6 linked regions of the Homo sapiens genome follow. The protein of the gene in region 2 purifies or fractionates together with the protein of the main gene of each other region. This does not show direct contact. Each region holds a gene or a part of one and is shown on either strand. Other genes may lie near its edges. The genes, in order: HCN1, SEPTIN3, HSD17B8, MBIP, PCMTD2 and RGS3.

The links.
Region 1: the proteins of SEPTIN3 (region 2) and HCN1 purify together in Homo sapiens (co-immunoprecipitation; one large-scale study listed by IntAct). This does not show direct contact.
Region 3: the proteins of SEPTIN3 (region 2) and HSD17B8 purify together in Homo sapiens (affinity purification with mass spectrometry; 4 studies listed by BioGRID and IntAct, with this or other methods). This does not show direct contact.
Region 4: the proteins of SEPTIN3 (region 2) and MBIP purify together in Homo sapiens (co-immunoprecipitation; one large-scale study listed by IntAct). This does not show direct contact.
Region 5: the proteins of SEPTIN3 (region 2) and PCMTD2 purify together in Homo sapiens (affinity purification with mass spectrometry; 2 studies listed by BioGRID and IntAct, with this or other methods). This does not show direct contact.
Region 6: the proteins of SEPTIN3 (region 2) and RGS3 purify together in Homo sapiens (co-immunoprecipitation; one large-scale study listed by IntAct). This does not show direct contact.

Annotation. Positions count from the first base shown.
Region 1 is NC_000005.10:45,644,372-45,647,905, reverse strand, and holds part of HCN1 (potassium/sodium hyperpolarization-activated cyclic nucleotide-gated channel 1), read left to right. Parts: intron 1-2,297; coding exon 2,298-2,721; intron 2,722-3,534. UniProt on the Homo sapiens protein: Hyperpolarization-activated ion channel that are permeable to sodium and potassium ions. Displays lower selectivity for K(+) over Na(+) ions.
Region 2 is NC_000022.11:41,993,412-41,996,084, forward strand, and holds part of SEPTIN3 (neuronal-specific septin-3), read left to right. Parts: intron 1-878; coding exon 879-930; intron 931-1,209; coding exon 1,210-1,303; coding exon of another isoform or gene 1,304-1,345; exon of another isoform or gene 1,346-2,673. UniProt on the Homo sapiens protein: Filament-forming cytoskeletal GTPase. May play a role in cytokinesis.
Region 3 is NC_000006.12:33,203,179-33,207,365, forward strand, and holds HSD17B8 ((3R)-3-hydroxyacyl-CoA dehydrogenase), read left to right. Parts: upstream 1-1,476; 5' UTR 1,477-1,490; coding exon 1,491-1,542; intron 1,543-1,723; coding exon 1,724-1,941; intron 1,942-2,042; coding exon 2,043-2,159; intron 2,160-2,268; coding exon 2,269-2,361; intron 2,362-2,461; coding exon 2,462-2,547; intron 2,548-2,649; coding exon 2,650-2,734; intron 2,735-2,955; coding exon 2,956-2,998; intron 2,999-3,196; coding exon 3,197-3,271; intron 3,272-3,459; coding exon 3,460-3,476; 3' UTR 3,477-3,653; downstream 3,654-4,187. Other genes in the region: zinc transporter SLC39A7 isoform 1 precursor, read left to right, coding at 363-635. UniProt on the Homo sapiens protein: Required for the solubility and assembly of the heterotetramer 3-ketoacyl-[acyl carrier protein] (ACP) reductase functional complex (KAR or KAR1) that forms part of the mitochondrial fatty acid synthase (mtFAS).
Region 4 is NC_000014.9:36,303,622-36,307,155, reverse strand, and holds part of MBIP (MAP3K12-binding inhibitory protein 1), read left to right. Parts: intron 1-3,534. UniProt on the Homo sapiens protein: Inhibits the MAP3K12 activity to induce the activation of the JNK/SAPK pathway. Component of the ATAC complex, a complex with histone acetyltransferase activity on histones H3 and H4.
Region 5 is NC_000020.11:64,262,230-64,265,763, forward strand, and holds part of PCMTD2 (protein-L-isoaspartate O-methyltransferase domain-containing protein 2), read left to right. Parts: intron 1-2,199; coding exon 2,200-2,302; intron 2,303-3,028; coding exon 3,029-3,200; intron 3,201-3,534. UniProt on the Homo sapiens protein: May act as a substrate recognition component of an ECS (Elongin BC-CUL5-SOCS-box protein) E3 ubiquitin ligase complex which mediates the ubiquitination and subsequent proteasomal degradation of target proteins.
Region 6 is NC_000009.12:113,501,699-113,505,232, reverse strand, and holds part of RGS3 (regulator of G-protein signaling 3), read right to left. Parts: intron 1-3,534. UniProt on the Homo sapiens protein: Down-regulates signaling from heterotrimeric G-proteins by increasing the GTPase activity of the alpha subunits, thereby driving them into their inactive GDP-bound form.

The sequences.
Region 1 (3,534 bases), on a different chromosome or scaffold from region 2:
GATGAATACAACATACATTTAGGTGTGAGAACTAAACAGCCTTGGTGATCAATTGGATATGGGTTTGAGCAGATTTAGGGCCAGGAGTTATTTAGGATGGCTCCATGGTTTCTGGCTTGCAAATCACACATAGAGTTATTCCATTCCCTGAGATAGGGGATATGTGAGGAATATATGTGGGAGAGGAGATTATGAGTTTGAGCTTAGGCATGCTGTTTGAGATGAGTGTGAGATATGCCAGGAGAGAGATTTAACGGGCTACTGATTATGAGGATTAGGAGGCTTAGAAGATAGGAATGGACTGAAGATAAAGCTTTTGGGGTCATCAGTTACAAATTAATTATTAAAGGCATGGATAAGTGTATAATATTTCTCAAGGGCAATGCGTAGAATAGAAGATGAAAGGGCTATGTGTGACACCCAGGGGAACAACAGCCTTGAAGGGGAGGGCAGAGAGAGAAGCTTACAGAAGGGACTTGATAGGAGTGCCCAGAAGTGAAAAATCCTCAGGGTACACACAGTTTCATTTTAGAGTTTAGTGGTGCCATTTCTTTGTGAAATAGCTGTTACAATATTGCTCCTCCTCTACATCTCTCCTCTGTCCTTATTGTGTTGAATGGTATATTTTGCATTTCCATTGTGAGAAGATATAAAACCATTTCATTTAAACTGCCAGTACATGTTGTATGGCTGACATGGGTATTTGTACAGTTGTTTCAAAAATTGCAGGCAAGTTTTGACAGAAATACTGGTGAAATCTTCAAAATAACAAACGCTTATCCTTTACAACATCCTGAGGCTGGAGACAGGGGAGATAGGGCCTATTATAGTTTTTTCTTCAACTAGTACTTTTATTTCAGGAGTCATTCTTAATTACAGATGATAGTAACTTTGAAAGCTTTATACACATGTATACCTCACCAAAATGTAGCTCAAATAGTCTAAGTAGGAGTATTCATGTAAAACAAAAATATCTTGGTAAACAGACATTTTTATCATGGAAGTTTATATTGTTTATACAAAACTCCTCAAATAACATACCTATGACTAGGATAAAGTAACTCATGTTTCTGGATACATTTCATGATTATACAGTTGTGTTTATTTTTTCATTTTTGCAAGTATATACTGTAACAACTATAAATATTTGATTAATAGGAGTGTCAACAGACTGAAAGAACCCTTATAAAAATAACACTATAGTTATGTCAAGTGAATTTAGTTAATTTAGTTAAGCTATATAAACCAGCAATGAAGTTCCTGGTTTTCTCTCAATTTTAATGTAAGTTGAGATAAGAATATTTCAAAAGGTACTTAGTAGTCATAGGCATGTTCAGAATTAAATTAGAAATGTTAAAGATTTTTTTTTAGCTGGGCATGGTGGCACGCCTGTAATGCCAGCTACTCGGGAGGCTGAGGCGGGAGGAGAATCACTTGAACTTGGGAGGCGGAGGTTTCAGTGAGCTGAGATTGTGCCATTGTACTCCAACCTGGGCAACAAGAATGAAACTCCGTCTCAAAAAAAAAAAAAAAAAAAAGAAAGAAAGAAAGAATTTTTATGGAAAAGTAGTGGCAATATATTTGAAGTAGTTGTTCAATAGAGTAGTAATAAAAACACAAATTTTAGGTAGATTCTAGTTTCAAATATGGAGTAGAACTTGCTCAGTTCTTTTTAGCATCAGACCAAAATTAGTTTTCTTATTTCAAGCAAAAGAAAAATAAAGCATAAAATATTTGGAGTACTGCAAAACTCCAGTGTATTCTAGATTCCATGGCAAAACTAATCTGTATTCCTTGAGATAAATTTGCATAACTAAAATTGTTAGAGTATCCTATTTATTTCTGGGTTTTTTTTTCTAATCTATGATTGGTAAATTGACATCTAAAATAATTCAAAACATCTTCAAAGAGCCTTCCCAAAGGCTTTCTTACAGATCTTCTAATCTTATACTTCTTTCTAGTTTCTGTCTATATTTTGTATTAAGTATAAGGTAGGTTGCTTTTTTTGCCTCTTTACTAAATAAATGGGGGTATGAATGTTTTTGATTTTATTTGTATAATGCTTCATATCACATAATTTTTAGAATTCCATAATCATAATGCCTTGGTTTAAGAATATATTAATTTTACTTAGATTTAAACATATAGCCATTTAAGGAATTACATTTTTAAAAAATAAAATCATTTCTTTGTTCTTTTACTTATTGATCTCACTATATATCAGTAATAATTTTTCATGGGGGGGATAGGCTGGTTATTTTCTATATCTTAAAATCTGATTTTTTTATTTGTTGTAGGTTTTACTGGGATTTAATAATGCTTATAATGATGGTTGGAAATCTAGTCATCATACCAGTTGGAATCACATTCTTTACAGAGCAAACAACAACACCATGGATTATTTTCAATGTGGCATCAGATACAGTTTTCCTATTGGACCTGATCATGAATTTTAGGACTGGGACTGTCAATGAAGACAGTTCTGAAATCATCCTGGACCCCAAAGTGATCAAGATGAATTATTTAAAAAGCTGGTTTGTGGTTGACTTCATCTCATCCATCCCAGTGGATTATATCTTTCTTATTGTAGAAAAAGGAATGGATTCTGAAGTTTACAAGACAGCCAGGGCACTTCGCATTGTGAGGTTTACAAAAATTCTCAGTCTCTTGCGTTTATTACGACTTTCAAGGTTAATTAGATACATACATCAATGGGAAGAGGTAAGATGCATCTTTTTCTTTTTTAAATCTATATCATGAAATTGTTAATTATGGCTGTTTTACAATGAACAACTGTGCAATGTGTAATGAGTTTTATGAAATTCAAGTAGAAAAATGTATTCGACGACTCTTTTCCATGCATAAGTGATATATTTGTATCCCTAAAATATATGATCAAATAATGGATTTGAATGAACTGAAAAAAATAGTGATCGTTTTATGCCAATTTATTTTATTTTTAAATAAATGCACTTTAATCAGCAATTATTATCTTGATCAATACAACCCCTTTCCCACCTTGGTTTTTTTTAATCTAATATAAATACATCAAGTACCATTATTTTGATAAAGATGTGTAGGGTCTGATTGCTAATCTGGCACATCATTAGCTCTGTGAGATAGTGTGGTTTTTGTATCCTCTAATATTGAAGTTTCATTGAATTCATGATTGGGTAAAACAGATTGTTTCTTTATTTCCAAATTGTATATATAAAGGCTTTGATTTTAGCATATTAATTTTGCTTATTGTTATGCCTTGCCTATAGTAACTTATTTTAGTTTCTCCCTATTAGTTCATTTCATAATACTAAAAAGGAACATATTCATGAGGGACATTAGTACATAGAAAACACAAAGAGTATAGTGAATAAATGGAGTGAATCTGACCAATCAGGCCCATATTTTGCTGAATAGAGCATCTGTTGTTAGGCAGTGGGTGGGACCTGAGAGGGCTCAGCCAACTGGAGTTTCCAAAGATCTGAGTTAAACCATCATCAAGCAAAGGAGTTCATATCCCTATCTTCAAAGTCTGAA
Region 2 (2,673 bases):
CCTCCCAGGTTCAAGTAATTCTTCTGCCTTAGTCTCCCAAGTATCTGGGACTACAGGTGCGGACCCCGATTTTTGTATTTTTTATTTATCCCCAAAAATTAGCCCAGCTAATTTTTGTATTTTTCGTAGAGATGGAGTTTTGTCATGTTGGTCAGGCTGGTCTTGAACTCCTGACCTCAGGTGATCCATTTGCCTTGGCCTCCCAAAGTGCTGGGATTACAGATGTGAACCACCATGCCTGGTGATTTTATTTTTATTTTTAATAGAGGTGGGGGTCTCACTGTGTTACCCAGGCTGATCTCAAACTCCTGGGCTCCAGTAATCCTCCTACCTTGGCCTCCCAAAGTGCTGGGATTACAGGCATGAGCCACAGCGCCTGGCCCCATGTCTTAATCCTCATTCTGTTCCAACAGTGCTTGGCCAATGATTTGCAAATACTAGGTATTCAATATATGTTGAATTGGATTTGTCATGTAGTGCATGACCTTTTTAAAATGGCTCAATTATTATTTTCTCTGTGTTACTTCCAACCGGATTATAAGCTTCTGAAGAATGGGAAGTGTATCTTAGGCCTTGGCCAGTTTCTCAGACTTGGTATTAGTTTTCTCTTCTATAAAATGGTAAAAATTATAGTCCCTCTTGGCTATTATGCCACAGCGTCTAGAAGGATGTCGTGCCCATTGTAGCTGCTTAATATTTGTTCAATGAATCAAATCCAGTACACCCAAGTGAGCAAATCTCTGGAAGGGTTACAAAAAATGACCTGTCCCATAGCTTTCTCCTAAATGCCTCCGTGACCCAAACAGAAGCTCACCTCCTGGGTGTTGCTGTATTAATGAACTGACTACCTGTTTTGCTTTGTTTTGTTTTGTTCATAGTGGAAAACCTCAACCACTGTGAGTTTGCCCTGCTTCGAGACTTTGTCATCAGGTAAGATGTCTCCCCTCCAGCTGTCCAGACAGCAGGTTGAATTATTTGGGGTCAGGGTCTATCTGTTCAGATTCACCTCCTGCATCTCCAGGTCTCTCTGACAGAGCTTTCTGCCCCAGTTCCAGCTCCTGTTGCAAAATGGAAGGTGCTGTAGAAGAATCCTTAGCTCCTGGGAGTGGTTCCCATTCACTGGGTCCAGTCCCTCGAAGTGATGTGTGTCACCGCCTCCTCTTCCTGCCCCTAATTGCAGCCCTCTTCTTCTCACCCTGTGTCCTCTAGGACCCACCTCCAGGACCTCAAGGAAGTGACACACAACATCCACTATGAGACTTACAGGGCCAAGCGGCTCAATGACAATGGAGGCCTCCCTCCGGTGAGCGTGGACACAGAGGAAAGCCACGACAGTAACCCATGACGACCACTTCTCTGTGTCATCACACATACCCACTTCACACACACACATCCCAAATACCACCACCAACCACCTTCTTCCTCTCAACTCTGTCCCACAGGCCTGTCTGGTATTTGTGGAGCATCTTGTCTGTGTGTGTGTGTGTGTGTGTGTGTGTGTGTGTGTGTGTGACAGAGAGAGAGCGAGAGAGCCTGTGTGTGTGCATGCAGGGGTGAGGTATTTTCACTGCCCTCCCTGGAGAGTCCCTTGTAAGTTTGGCTCCTCCATGCCTGTCCATTATCTGTCTCCTTTCCTTGTGTCCCAAAACAAAGCTGTTTGCCTCACTCAGGAGATCTGGGGGAGGTTTCATTTAAAAGTGCTGGGAGCAGGTGAGCCACAGGCAACTCTTCTCTCGGAACCTGCACACAAACTGGGGCTATAGAGATTCTCCAAGGACAGATGGCAGTGGAGCTAGACCTGAGTAGGGGGCAGGGAGTTCAGGACAACCCTCCTGTAAGTTGGGGGTGGTCTGGGGGTAAGGCTGGGGCTTCCTGGGAAAAGGAAGGCCATGAGAAGGCAGAGAAGTAGGCCAGAGCTGGGTTCTTGCAGAAAGCATCAGTGCCTACAAATGGAGCTCCACCCTTCAGTCTGTGTCGTGTTCAGTGTCACAAAGCTACCACCTGTCACCAGAGCCTACTGCTGCTCTCCACTCAACTGGCCTCTGCTGCCAGGCCACTGCCTGTCTCTGCTTCCGACTTTGTCTTCTTTCTCCCTTTCCCTCCTTCCCTCATACATTGCTTTCTCTCCCTCTCCTGCGTGTCTCTGACATCTCTCACTTCCTTTTAGATGAATCTACTTTAGGTTCATTCCTATATTTAGCATTTATGCCCAGTCTACTTCCAGAAATGACTTTAGACTGCCTTTCACATAAAATCACAAAACTACAGGACAGTACAAACAGATTGCCAGAGAAATCTGGGTCAAAGAAAGGAATAGGAAAGAAAGTTTCTGTAGTCAAGCACCTGAACAGGCCCTGAGCTCACAGGCAGCCAATGTAAAGAGGGAAACACAGTGAGTTATGCAGTTCCCAGTGTCCAGTTAAAGGAAGCACACATGCTAGTCATGTGAGACAACCTTTTATTGGGACATCAGGTTCTAGAACTAATTCTAAAGAAGTATCAGAAACAATATACATAATTTGTCTTTCTTAGTAATTTGGCTTCAAAGACAAATTTTTGACCACACCTCCGTTTTCTCCGTCAGACTTCTCTCCCTTCTAAGCAGGCTTCTCTGTTGCTCCATTTGCTTCATACATACTTGACCTCTCTTTTCTATTCCCCATCACTTTTGTG
Region 3 (4,187 bases), on a different chromosome or scaffold from region 2:
CTCTTATTAGTTCCAAACAATTCATACTGTCATTGACAAGTCCTCTAGAAATGAGGGGGAAGAAGTTCTGGTTACTTTGTCCTTTAGCTCAGTATTTCTTAAACTGGTCTATAAACCATCTGAATGGTTTAGTGGAGTCTTACACACACACGCCTACTCAATCAGAAAGTCTGTGGAAAGGACCTCTGATCTCTTAAGATTTTTCAGAAATTGTCTATTCTAGACTGCTCCCTCTTCTCTTTTTATTTTGATGTTTAGTTTCCAAATCCATGTCCCCTATACCTATACCCCACCAGCCACTTCTAAACCACTGATAATCTTTAGCTATTGGTGAGTGCCTTTTTCTCTTTTCTGCCCATCAGGCGATGCGTCTGCAACTACTGACAGCAGTAGGGGCACTGGCAGGCACAGCCTGTGCCCTTCTCACTGAAGGAGGAGCAGTGGGCAGTGAAATTGCAGGTGGTGCAGGTCCTGGCTGGGTCCTGCCATTTACTGCAGGTGGCTTTATCTACGTAGCAACAGTGTCTGTGTTGCCCGAGCTGCTGAGGGAGGCATCACCATTGCAATCACTTCTGGAGGTGCTGGGGCTGCTGGGGGGAGTTATCATGATGGTGCTGATTGCCCACCTTGAGTGAGGGGTGGATAAACTACCCCTGCCCCAAACCTCTACCCCTAACTCCAGGTCAGGGGTGCGTAGAGGTTGGGGGCCCTGGCCAGGGACATCTGCCAAAGGAAGGAACTGTAGCCTGGGAGAATGGTTACTTTGGCATTAGGGCCTTCAAGGGCTGGCAGTCTTACAGAGGCTGGAGCGGTGAGAATGAGAGGCCAGAGGGACCATAGTGTTGGGCACTGTCTGACCATGTTGCATTTGGAAGGCTAAATGGGGCCATGAAGAAGGCTGGAAGGGACAGGGGGTGATGGCAGCCTACCTGGTGTCCCCTACCCCACCTGTTCTCGGAGAACCAAGTTGCTACACAGGAAGTTCTCCAAGGTCCAGTTTCCTTTCTCCCACCAGTTGGTGGAGGCTTCAGGGAAGACCAGAGTCCTGGACAGAGAGGGTAACAGGAGGAGTCGGGGATAAACATCAAACATCAATCGTGTGTCCTGATTTGGGAGTGATTGGGGGGATGGGGTGGGAGAGGGTTAGTTGGTATTCTCATGGCCTGATTTTTTTTGTTTCTATTCCTTTTATATCACTGTGTTTGAATCGAGGGGGAGGGGTGGTAACCGGAAATAAAGACCTCCGATCTTCCGCCCCACATGCAGTCTTTGTCTTTTTGGGGGGAATGGGGCCCCTTGTCTTCTCCACACCCGGGGCCCCTAAGCAGCAGTGTCGGGCCACGCCCCCTCGGTGGGAGGTCGGCCTGCGCTGGTGGCCGCAGATGGCCTAAGGCTGGCGGGCCTTTGATTGGCCCCGGCTTTGCCCTTGCCACGCCCCTCTGCGCTGGGATTGGCTTAGTGCTGGGATTCCCACCCACCCACAGCCCGCCATGGCGTCTCAGCTCCAGAACCGACTCCGCTCCGCACTGGCCTTGGTCACAGGTTGAGGGGGTTCTTTCCCCGGGCGGTTTGGGGTATTGGAGTGAGGTCAGGGGCGTGCCCTTGGAGTGCGCGGCCGCTGTGACCTCTGGCCCCTTACCCACATTTTACTTTCTGCCCTGTGACCTCTGATCCCTGCCCTCTCCTCCCCGTGCCCGGTCCGGCGTGTTCTGTCCTACCTCAGGTGCGGGGAGCGGCATCGGCCGAGCGGTCAGTGTACGCCTGGCCGGAGAGGGGGCCACCGTAGCTGCCTGCGACCTGGACCGGGCAGCGGCACAGGAGACGGTGCGGCTGCTGGGCGGGCCAGGGAGCAAGGAGGGGCCGCCCCGAGGGAACCATGCTGCCTTCCAGGCTGACGTGTCTGAGGCCAGGGCCGCCAGGTGCCTGCTGGAACAAGTGCAGGTGAACGCTAGGCCACTTTCCCCCTCTAAAGCTCTGATATTGCCTCCACTGCCCCGGCTTTTTGTGGGGGGTTTTTGATGCGTAACCTCCCCCTCCCATAGGCCTGCTTTTCTCGCCCACCATCTGTCGTTGTGTCCTGTGCGGGCATCACCCAGGATGAGTTTCTGCTGCACATGTCTGAGGATGACTGGGACAAAGTCATAGCTGTCAACCTCAAGGTGGCGATCTCTGAACCTGCGACGTTTGGCCCCCTTAGCCTGGGGAGGGAGTTGGAGGAGGGCTGTCACCCCAGCTGATCTTTTCTCCCTTGTTACCCTTTCCCGCCAGGGCACCTTCCTAGTCACTCAGGCTGCAGCACAAGCCCTGGTGTCCAATGGTTGTCGTGGTTCCATCATCAACATCAGTAGCATCGTAGGAAAGGTCAGGTTGAGTTGGACGAGGTCAGCCAGCCAAGTGGTATAGAGAGGAGAACCCCTCCTTGAGACTCCTGACTCATTCCACATCTCTGACTCACCTATAGGTGGGGAACGTGGGGCAGACAAACTATGCAGCATCCAAGGCTGGAGTGATTGGGCTGACCCAGACCGCAGCCCGGGAGCTTGGACGGTTGGTCAGATGCTTGAGGGTGCTGGGGAGCACCTGGGGGGTCTGAGGGAGGTACCAGCATTCAGCCCTCTCCAGAATCGGCAGCCACTCTCCTTCCCACAGACATGGGATCCGCTGTAACTCTGTCCTCCCAGGGTTCATTGCAACACCCATGACACAGAAAGTGCCACAGAAAGTGGTGGACAAGGTAGGAGGCTGTGGGTGGAGGGCAGAATCATTCAGAGACTCAATCTCTCTGGGCTTCACAGAGAGAGAGAGAGAGAGAGAGAGAGAATACTGGGCACAGTTCCTGGCAAACATTAAATATTCAATGAATGTATGAGAAATGAAGACAAAAAAGGGTCACAGACTCAGTCTTCAAAAAAATCCATAAAAGAAGCTTTCACCCACATGAGTATTTCCTTACAGATTACTGAAATGATCCCGATGGGACACTTGGGGGACCCTGAGGGTGAGCACTGAATGTAGTGGGGTCCCTGGGAAGGGGGCCTGAATGAAGAGATCCCCAAAGTTTGGGGATTTTCTAGGGGACTGGTGGTTGGTGTCTGTGGAGAGGTTTGTGGGGAGGGATGTCTTTGGTGGGAGATTATGGCTGTTTTGGGTCTATGGGAGTGAGCAGAATTCTGCCCTCTCCCCACCATTCTCATAGATGTGGCAGATGTGGTCGCATTCTTGGCATCTGAAGATAGTGGATACATCACAGGGACCTCAGTGGAAGTCACTGGTATGAGGCCAGCATGGGGAGGGAGAGGGCAGAGAAGTAGAACCCAGACTATATGAGAAAGCAAGTAAGGGGAGTCTGGAGCCACTGGGAAGGGCAGAGGTTCCCAAGGCCAGGGACAGAAGTGGGTACCCCCTAGCCCATTTGTGTCTCCACCCATGCATCTGTCCAAATGTTTCTGCCCCTCCCAGGAGGTCTTTTCATGTAACTGCCTCAAGGACCCTGGACTCTGCTCACCCCCCCACCACTCTGCCTGGCCTCCTGCTGATGAGGACTCTAAGTTCCCAGGATACAAAAGGGGTGGCAGTGTATGGTTCAGGAATGCTGAATATGGGAAGCAGGGGTGCTTGTGACCCTAATAAATTCCAAGTCCTCTTCCCTGCCACCTCCGGCTCTTCTTGTGTCCAAGCCCTCAGACCCTTCCCCACCTCCCCCTCCTTTCCCTTTCCCGAAGGATTGTTCCCTTTCTCTGCCTGGTCTCCCAGGGCAACCCCCGCCGCCGGGTGTGAGAGGAAAGAGTATGTGTCACTGTGTATGCGTGACACTCCGGGTCTTTTTGAAGGGAGGGGTTCGTGCGTCACCCCTTTCCACTGGTTCTGCAGCACCAGTCCCCTCCCCCCAACTCCCTGGGTTCTTATGGTCCCCAAGGGTGATTTGTTCATGGCCCCATCTTGGTGTCCAGTCTGGCCTTGAAAGGGGGTCTTGGAACAGGTGGCCCTCCCCCACCCCTCTCCTTTCTCTGAGTCCCCCCCTCCCCTTTCTCTCCACCTTACAATAGCTGCAGCCGGCCTGGGGTCGGATGGGGGGGATTAGGGGAGGGGGCCAGGATTAGGGGAATGAACCAGCCGATGAAAGGGGCTGGAGAGAGCAGGAGGGAGGGGGCTGGGAAGAGGAGGAGGAAGGGGAGGGGGGTCTGCGC
Region 4 (3,534 bases), on a different chromosome or scaffold from region 2:
CCTAAATGACAAAATTTCAGAGAAGAGTTTTAGTGATTTACTACTCTCAAATGTAAAATGAGGTTTATGAAAATACTAAGGGCTGAAGCAAAGATCAAATGAGATAATGCTGATCAAACACTTAGCATACTGCTTAGCACATGGTAAAAACCTCATTGGCATTTATTTAGTTTTATAACTACAAAGTAGCTGTATAAACGTGGAAAAGTCACTCTATTCCTCTGATCTTCAAGATGTCTAATTTTAGAAAATGTATTGGTTGTACTACATAATTACAAAGGTCTTTTCACTTTTAGGATTATTCTTTGAATGTCTTCCTAGGAGACTTCATAAAGATTTTTAATGACTTTTCCTACAGTAGTCTACCATAAGTTTTTCCCATTCTAACTGCCTTCATTAAAGAAGGCAATAACCTAGGAAAGTTATTTTTCTAGTTCAATTTCATACCTTGTTAATATAATTCTTATTAACGATAGAACCGATCTTACAATAGAGTATGGTAAAATCAGATGCCTCCAATGAGAACTTGCTGCAGCATCATTCCTCTCTTCTCTCTGATTCTGATTTATAAAAACTTAACAGAGGCCGGATGCAGTGGCTCACGCCTGTAATCCCAGCACTTTGGGAGGCCAAGGTGGGCGGATCACCAGAGGTCGGGAGTTCAAGACCAGCCTGACCAACATGGAGAAACCCCATCTCTACTAAAAATACAAAAAAATAAAAAATAAAAAAAATAAGCTGGGCATGGTGGCGCATGCCTATAATCCCAGCTACTTGGGAGGCTGAGGCAGGAGGATCGCTTGAACCCAGGAGGCTTAGGTTGCGATGAGCCAAGATCACGCCATTGCACTCCAGCCTGGGCAACAAGAGCAAAACTCGGTCTCAAAAACAAAAAAAACAAAACTTATAGATGTGTTTAACAAAAAAAAAAGCCCTCCACATCATAATCTTTTTGTTTTGTTTTGATCTGTTACAGATAGGATAGAGTGGGTAAAGAGGTAGAAGTAGCCAGATTGTTAGGACCTTAAGTGCTATGCTCAGAAGTTTAAAATCTATTTTCCAGGCAGGCAGCAGGGGGAATCTACTGAAAGCATTTGAGCAGAGAAGTGATTTGTGAACACGATATTTAGAAAGATTTATCTAATACAGTTGTGGGAGACAAACGAGAGAAACTAAGGATAAGGAGATAGTATTATGCTAGCTTAGATGTGAAGTTAGTTCCTAAAATAGGGACATGAGTGAGAATGGAAAAGATTAATGCAAGTAGGAAAAAAAATGGACAAATACTGATGATTGGATGTGGAAAGAGACAGAGAACAAGGATAGAGTCCAGTTTCTGGTTGGAAAAATGATACCATCATTGATAGAAATAAGAAAATCTAGAGAGAGAGATACTTTTGTGGGAAATGTGAATTTGAAGGCAGAGGAGGTTATGAAGGTAAAAACATCAGGTAAGCTTTTTGAGATACGGCACTTACACTTGGGACAATTGGGAGAGTCTGTGTAGTGTGAGAGTCCATTGATGGATAGGAACACAGATTGTCTGAGGCCTGAAGTCTGAAGCTTGGTGACTGCCTAATTTCAGGGGCAGGAAGCATTTGTAAATGTAAACAGAGGATTGGCATATATGTATTAAGCATTCAGAAAAGGATGGATGGTGGCAACCTGTGATAAAACAGGTGATTTTTAAAAGTATTTCCAAATATGTTAAAAAAAAAAACTATATATCTTTTAGAAGAACTGCAGTTCTTCTGGATTAGTGTTGTAAGTGACACATTAAATTAGTAGTGAGCTACAAGGAAGAACAAAACACTGGAAAGTTTAAACATTCAGACTCATTCTGTCCTTTAGGCCTGTGAACATACATGACACAAGCCCTATGGGAAAGAAGATTTCATACTCATCACCCTTCTATAATAGGATGAATGAGCCATCTTTAGGAACCTCACTTGGAATACAGTCAGCTCTAAGAGTGTCCTTGCAAACAGGAGAAGTTGAGCACATACCTTACAGAGGACATAGTACATTATTCATCACCCTCACCATCATGCTGGGAGTACATGCATGGTAATTGCATAATTTTACATATTTATCCCTCAAAAGTATACAGAAGAAACTACATATGTAGCACAGTCCTATAGCTTCTAAAGATAGGAAAGGAAAGTTGAGCCCATTCAGTTTATTAAGGATTGAACTTTTGTTGGAACTCCTGAACTCTGAAAAGATTTTCATTGAAATGTGTTTATTCAGATTCACATGTAGATGAATTCTAAACATGGGGGAGCTTCTTACAATTGGATAGAGATTGATTATCATGGGTAACATTGAAGCGTAGCATAGAAAAACAAATATTTATGGGGAAAAAAGATGTCATTTGTATTTGTTTTATAAAATGTAATCAGATTATGTAAAGTTCTCATTTTACGACCAGACATAAAACTCCAAAATAAGTTATATGTGTATAAAACAGGATTTATGACAAAAGTTAATAATACTTGTTGGACATTTTGATATAAGAGTTCTAAAGATCTTTATTCTTCACATTAGCCATGGAAAGCTTTAAATGTAATGTTTTCAAAAGTTTAAGGGCATGGCCTTAACAGTCCATTTAAAAGAACGATCTTAGAGTATTTCCAAAGACTTACTGATTTTAAATTATGATACTTGAAAACAGTAAGTACCAACATGCTTTTACAAGTATATTGTTTAGTTTATAGCATTTATCACTCATATGTTTATACATGTTTTTCACTTTATATTTTGAAACTCTCAAGGGCAGGAACTATGTCTTGTTCATCTTTGAGACACAGAATGTAGTCAATATCGAGTAGATGTGCAAATGAATGGATAGGACTTGGCTGATAGCTCATTATTGGACTTTGAAGGTGTGTTAACTTTGTTCAAAGCACTGACTGAGAGTAATTTTTAGTCTGTAACAGTAACTCCTGGTTCTTAAGGGAAGTATCGGGGGAGGGGAATGCTGAAAATCAGGTCAACATCATGTACACAGGCCATGTGCGTGTGAACGTGTGGTGGGTCTGAAGCATGAGTGAACAACTGGATTCAGCTAGAAAATTAGATTGTAAACATATTTCAGAGGGCCTTGAAGGTCACACTAACCAGTTTGCACTTCTAGTATCATTGGAGCACAATTAAGTTTTAGAGAAAGAGAGAAACTTGTAATTTAGGTCCCTGTCTGGTGGCATTATGAAGTCTGAGTTGGAGAGAAATTGGAGTCAAGGAAACTAGTTTAGGAAACATGTCATTATCCAAGCCAGAGAGAAATGAAGGTCTGAATCAGGGCTCTGGGACTAGAAGGGAAGAAAAACATTTTAGATACTGCACGCATAGAATCAGTTGCCTTTTACAACTGAAAGAAAGCAAGCCAGTCATGGAAGAGGCCTCCTTACCCTTGAGTTTCCTTAGAGCACTGGTTCCCTGGATTCATATGTGTGTGTGCATGTGCGTGAACGTGTGTATGACAGTCATGCTCTGCATAAGGATGTTTCAGTCAACAGTCAACTGCATATATTA
Region 5 (3,534 bases), on a different chromosome or scaffold from region 2:
GCTAACGGAGCCAGACTCCATCTCAAAAAGAAAAAAAAAAAGTAAGCCTGAAATGGCCTTGCTGTACTTGACATCCCCTAGAAGTTATAAGGAAAGGCCTTCCAACTTGATACAGTTGCTTTTCTTTCCTGAATCCCCTGTTTACTGGAAATTTCATTGGATTTTGGGAGGAGAGAGGTCTGAAGGAAGGAAAGGCCTGTTTTCTGCTGTAATGGATGTAACATGCTGCTTTGATGCAGTTGAAGGAAGTGACTTCAGGGTTTGCTGTCATGGATGCGTGTCTTGGCTGTGTCTCCAGATGCTGCAGCTTTTATTCAAGCTTAATAGCACTTGGTGCAGAGCACTCCAGAGTGAAACCTCATTGGCTTCCCGGCGCCTGTGGATGTGGGTCTCTCATCTGACGGAGTTCTTTACTGTGACCCCCGACTGCCTTTCGCATGGCCTGAGCGGCATCCTGGGTCAGCCCTGTTCCTGTGCTTGCTCTGTGGGCTCCTCTCCCCTTTGCTCAGGGCTGTCCTTACCTTTGTTTGTCATCAACCAGGGGAGAATACAGTAGCTACTAAGAGATGGTGGCTCATAAGTCACCTACCTGAAAAGTGCTGGGTGATTCGGAAGCAGGGCAGACCTAGGAGCGGCTCTGCCAGGGGGGCCTCGCTGCTCTGGTTTCATGCCGTGCTCCAGTGCTGAGTCCCAGGTGCCGTGTTCCTGACACCCCCCGGCCACCCTGTGTCCTCCTCCCCTGCTAGTCATCTTTGTATTAAGCAGGTGGGTCGAGGTATTTGTGTTACTACTGTTTGGTGTTAAGCTTCTTGGGAATAGGAACCATATCTCATATCTGTTACTAGAATTAACTGCTTATTAAGTGTTTGATAGTGAAGGTGAGGGGTCAGTGAAAATAAGATGAGTGGGAAGAATCAAGCGCTATTTTTGGTCTCTGGCAGAGTCGGGAATTGAAGTCGGAGTTGTCAGAAGGTCTTGACGTTCAGAGTAATTCAGGATTTGATGTTGTAAACAGTGAAAAGGGGAACTCTCAGGTAGGGTGTATTTTGACGAGGTAATGTTTTAGCAGCAGCTCTGTGTATGAAATACGTGGAGAGAAAAGAGCAGCAGGTACAGTTGTCCAAATGGGGGCCAGGGAAGCCTTGGCCTGGGCTGGTGGCTGTTGTACTAGGAGGGCCCACACGGTGCAAAGGTGTGGGATGCACAGAAGGTTGCCCATTTCTTAGCATTTCTGTTAGATTGTAGGGTCCAGTGCTACATGATCACTGTAGTAGTATATCTGTCTACCAAGTAAAGTCCTACGTGCCTTGTGATTTTTACATGTAGATTTAAAAAGTTGACGTGTAACTTACCCATAGTAAATGAACAAGTGTGAAGTGTGAATTCTGGTGGACTTTTACATATGCATCCACCGCCATATAAACTCCAGCCACAGCAAGATGCAGAGTTGAATCAGCACCCCAAAAGGCTCCCATGCCCCCTCCTCCTCCTAGAAAGTTCACCAGTGTTGCATCTTCCAGAAAGGTGATGACCGTTTTGCCTTTGTCGGCAAAGATGAATTTTGCCCGATTTTTACCTTCATGTAAGTGGATTCCCGCAACAGAGAGACCCATTTAAGTTGAGTGTCAATACTGTGTTCCCAGTTAACGTAGGGGCAGTTTTATATCGGGGGAGCACTGTCATCATTAAGTGGACTTGTAACATTTCTCAGTTGTATTTCAAATTACTGATAAATATCCTTTGATATAAAAATGTTTCATTGTGACTTGGAAGCATAGTTTTATCTTAATGATGATGATTGAACCCTGTTTTGTGAATATTATAATGCTCACATCTGAGTGTTCTGGGCAACTTTTCAGGGAAAACAGAATCGTCTTAAATGTTACCTCTGGACAAACAGGTGAGGCCTGTGTCAGTTCCATTTGCAAATACATGTTTCTTCTTTAGTTCATTAGTAAGACCTGAACACTTGGTTTGTCTCCATTTTCAAATGATTCTTTAAAAGTTTGTGAGCAGAGAAGCCCAGGCCTCAAGTATTTACGATGTGGTGAGCCGTGATACTGTGATGAGACTTCAAAACTTTGTGAATGTCTGTAGTTACACATGTTAAGTCAGACGTGTTACAGTTGGTAGAAGTGAACAGATGAGCAAGAGTTCTTACTCTGGTTCTACATGTTTTCTTATTCTTAAACCTTTTAGGTCCTTTTGGTGTGAACCATGGGGTGGAACTTCACTCAGATGTGATAGAGTATGCAAAGCAGAAACTGGACTTCTTCATCAGAACAAGTGATAGTTTTGACAAGTAAGATGAAATACTATCCATTGGCTCAGATGATGTGAACTGTAATTTTACAAAGTTTTGATCAGATAGAAAGAAATCATGTGGTAGGAAACATAATTAAACTGTGGTGGGATGATTCTATGTGCCTGTTCTAATTTTCAGAAAAGATTCTGTGTTTTGAGGGTTTTAGGGTATTTCAAACTGTTACACATACATAAGGTGTTCATTTGCTCAATATTCATGTTTCCTGTTGAAGACAACTGTTTACCACCTAGTTTTTCCTAAAATAAAATTGTTGCATTTGTCTCTAAACAGTATATGTAACTAGCTTTTGCCATTTTAAAAGAAGGCATTAAAGTTCTTATTTTAGGGATTAAAATTTTTAGAAACACCAAGTGCAGTTTCACCACCCCCACATCTCACTCATTGTGTAGTATTAATAGATCTTACATAAGATGATAAGAAGATGACAGAGACAGCAGCGACTGGAGATTGTGTGAAATTTGGATAAAACTTTTGATATTCACTTTCATACTATTTTGTTTGGTATTTCTAGAGTTCTAGTTATATAGTATAATTCTTTTTGGAAGTAATTCTTGGACATTTGTAATTCTTTTCTTCCAGCTCCTCACACTGTAAACTGTGTTACATTGCTGTGGGATTTTAACCTGTGGTTAGCATAGATTTACTGTATAGACTTGTTGCAATGTGATACTTTTAGTTGCAGGAAGCATTTTTTACTTCCAGGTTTGACTTCTGTGAACCTTCCTTTGTTACTGGGAATTGCCTGGAGATTTCTCCGGATTGTTCTCAGTATGATCGTGTATACTGTGGGGCTGGCGTGCAGAAAGAGCATGAAGAGTACATGAAGAATCTTCTCAAAGTGGGAGGGATCCTTGTCATGCCACTGGAAGAGAAGGTCAGATTCCCTTCATAACTGACATTTCTGCACACTGTGTGCCAAGGTCTGTTCTGGGCAGTGTACGGATACTTACTCTTTTAACAATTTCCTGCATTTCACAAATGAGGAAACAGAGGCAGGGACAGGTGAGGGAGATGCAGGGTCACGCACATGCCCTAGCTGGGGCCAGAAGCTGACTCAGGTGGGTGCTTCAGAGCCTGCACGTGAAACGCTTTTCTCCACCTTCCTTCTCTGTCTCTCTCTTTTTCCTTCTTCTGTCCCTTCCCCCTCACCTCCCTCTTCCTTCCCCTTCTCCTTCCCCCCAGCTGTTCTGAGTTTTAATTCTAATTGT
Region 6 (3,534 bases), on a different chromosome or scaffold from region 2:
GCTCAGCAAGTAAACCCAGGCTGATGTGGGGAGGGCCTGGGATGGACAAGGTCTTGGAAAAGCAAACTTTGCCATCCTGAGCCCCAGCAGCCCCAGCCCTTGATCCAAGGGCCCACCAGCACTGCATGACTCAGCCTCACCTTTGATCCACTGTTTTCCTGGCTCCCTTCTTCCTTTCTCACAGAGGTTCACAGAGCGTTAGCCTGGGGCGGGCCCTGTGCTAAGGGCCCAAAGTCAAGGCCAGCCTGGTCACTGCCCTCCCAGAGCACAGGGGAGGAAACACTGGGACACACTCACTCCATCTCAGGCCAAGGGTCAGAGGAAGAGAGCTGAGGTTCTGGGGGCCAATCTGTGGCCAGGGCCCCAAGGCATCCCATGAGGACTCCCAGGTAAGGTCACAGATAGGCTTCCTGGCTGAACCTGAACTAGCCACTGACTCATGTGCCTGCTGAGGCCCATGTGCTTGACAGGTCCACAACTCCTACTTTCAGAAGTCCATGAGAGGGCCTTGCCATCTGGATGCTCTTTTCAAACTGGCACACAATTATTGAGCTCCTACAGCATGCCAGGCTCTGTGGACATACAGAGGCATGCAGCCTTGGTCTCTGGTTCCCAGAGGAGCACGAGGGTACACAAACCTCTCCAGAGTGAAGCAGGGCACAGCGGGCACTAAAGAAAAGCAGGAGGACTGGGCCATTCTCAGTCCTTTATGCTCCGACTATGGACGCCATGCTTGGCACATGGTAGGAACTCAGCAGAGGCTAATGCAGGGAGGACAGCCTGGCAGTGTCCCACACACAGGAGGATGTAGGGTGGTCTGCCAGCCCATTCCGGCTGCTAAAGGCAGCACAAATCAGAAAAGGGATTCAAGGGGTCCCGAGAGACCCCCTAGAGAAACTGGGACTTGGGGTGGGCCCTGGTGAGGCACAGGGAAGGGTGTCCCAAGTGAGTTGAGACAAAGGCCAGCTCAGCAAGCTTGGAAAAGGTCAAGGGCACAAGCCTTGTCAGGAGACTTCTGTCTCCTTCCTTTGAGGGTTGTCCCTGCAAGACTAGGCACCTGCACTCATTCACCTACCCACCATCCCAGGGCCAGGCATAAGGAAGGTGAGTGGGAGGGGGCTCAGAGTGACCAAGGGCCTTGGAAGCTGCAGGGACCTCTGAGGCTCTGCTTCCCACCAGCCCCGGGCCTGGATTCAAAGCAAGTTTGTAAAACAGGAAACCTGACAGACAAGGGGAAGGGGGAGGAGGCAGGAAAATACCCCGTTCCCATAAGAATTCTGGGAAAACACGCAGCTAAGACAGGAAGAGAAAAAAATGGAAAGAAAGAAAGAAAAACAAACGCGGGTACGAGTGTGGAAAGCTGGGGGAAAGGAGCAGCCACTAGTTGCCGGGCCCGCCTGAGGCCAGGGAAGACGCCAGGAGCCTGGCCCCCTCCATGGAACCAGCGGGGATTTTTTAGGGGCCTCACAAGCCAACCCTCAACCCAAGCACAAGCTGGGGTCCCAAAGCCTATCCAGCACTTCCCCACCCCTACCCCATCCAGGGCCAAAGCCCCCTGCATAGAAAACCCATCCCAGCACCCTGGGCTCTGGATGGCCAGTTATGGGGCAGTAACTGGAGAGTGGGGTCTGGGGAGGAGTGTGCTCCAAGAAAACAGCCTCCTCCTCCCACACCCAGACCCCACATCCAAGCAGGACTGTGGGCTGGGGGCCCCTCACCCTCCTGGGCACCAGCTTAAGAAGTGCCAGCCCAGACCACAGTCCAAGCCAGATGGGAGTGTGAAGGAGGGGAAGAGGAGAGGGTGCCGGGAGGCAAGCTCACCTCCTAGCTCGGAGGAAGCAGAATTACACTCTGTCCACCATGATCACTGACCACATTGAGAGGGTAGTGTCCAAAGAACCTGACCATCCCTGCAGCCCCTAGGGGAATGAGTATGCCCATTTTACAGACAAGGAGATAAGACTCGAAGTGCCACCCCCTCCACCCTCCGGCTCTCAGCCCTGCTCTGACCTGGAGGTGAAAGGAGCAGCCCTGCCCCGAGGCCTTGGCGGCTTCTGACAGAGCCTGTCCTTCCTGCGGGTGGTTCTCGCTCTTTCCTGTCCAGGGCAGGAACAGCCACTGCTCCCAGGTCTCACCCATGCCAGCCCCTTACCTCTGCTCTCCTGTCTAGTTTCTGTTCCTCTGTCCTGCCTAGACTGTAATCCCCAAATTCTGCCATGTATTAAACACCTCCTAGATAAATATGCACAGCAGACACTGAGCCAGGCTCTTCACACACATCATCCTATTCACTCCCATGGCACCATCGCTGGATTTCATTATCCTATTTTACTGACTAGGAGATAAAGGCTCAGAGAGGAACAGTGACTTGCTCAAAAGCCACAGCTAAAGAGGAACAGAGCTAGATTTGAGCTCAGACCTGACAAAAAGCTTGCTGCTCTCAATTCTGCACTGGTTTCTAACACAGAAACCATCTTGAACTCTGAGTCCCTGAGCCCTAGGTCCAGCCCACAATTGCTCCTGGCCCCACTCTGACAGCCAGCATGCCCAGTCTTCTAGCCCATAGCCCCAGGGTGACCAAGGACTACTAGATGTCCCAACCAGTGCTCTCTCTGTCTCACCACTCTGCCATCCAGACGCTAGTGTCGCAGGGGCTGCTTTTCCCAGCCCCATGAGGGCAGGAAACACAGAGTGGGGCCTGAAGGGCAGAACCTGAGAGCGGGGGAGGGCTAGAGAGAAAACACTGGATCCCCTAGCAGGCAGGTGGGGGGGCAGGGACCCCTCTGGGCATCTCCCTGGGACCTAAGCACTGCCAGTCAGAGGAGTCAAGACCCACAGTCCAATCTGGTCATTAAAACAAATAGAGGGGCTTCTCTATGTGATTTTTTAAAATCAGGACAATTTCAGAACTCCCTTCCAGATTAGATATCACTTGCCTTCACCATCCCTAACCCCATTCCTATTTTATGAGAAAAAATGGCCCATCACAGTTCTAGAAGAGGCTCAGGGGAGCTAATGGGATCATAATGGCCCAGTCTTCCCCCTTTCTAAGACCGGAGGCTAAGAGGCCAAACCCTCACTGTAAAGTTGGATTCCAAAGCCAAAGGAATCCTGAGCCATAGTGAGGCATCAGCAGTAGGGGAGAGGAAAGTTATACATATGTACATATACACGAAAACACCCGATCTCACATATGAGCACGTGCCAACATACACGCACAGGGGGCAGAATGGGCACTGCTGTCCTGTCAGAAGCAGGAAAAGTTAGCAAAAATACAAACTCTGCTCCCAGCTGCTCAGCAACCATGGCATTTTCAATCTCACACCCACAGCCCCTCCCCAGATAAAAAGAACAGAAAGCTAGCTGGATTATCTCACCAAAAACACCACCCAGCCAGTGGTTAGGACTCCATACAGAGCTGGGCCCTAAAGGGGCCTTGGGTCCAGCTCCTGTCTCTATCCTCCTCCCCATATCCAAGTGAGCCTGCAGGGAGCAGGAAAGGTCAAAGAAGACCTTGTGAGGAGCGAGATCCTT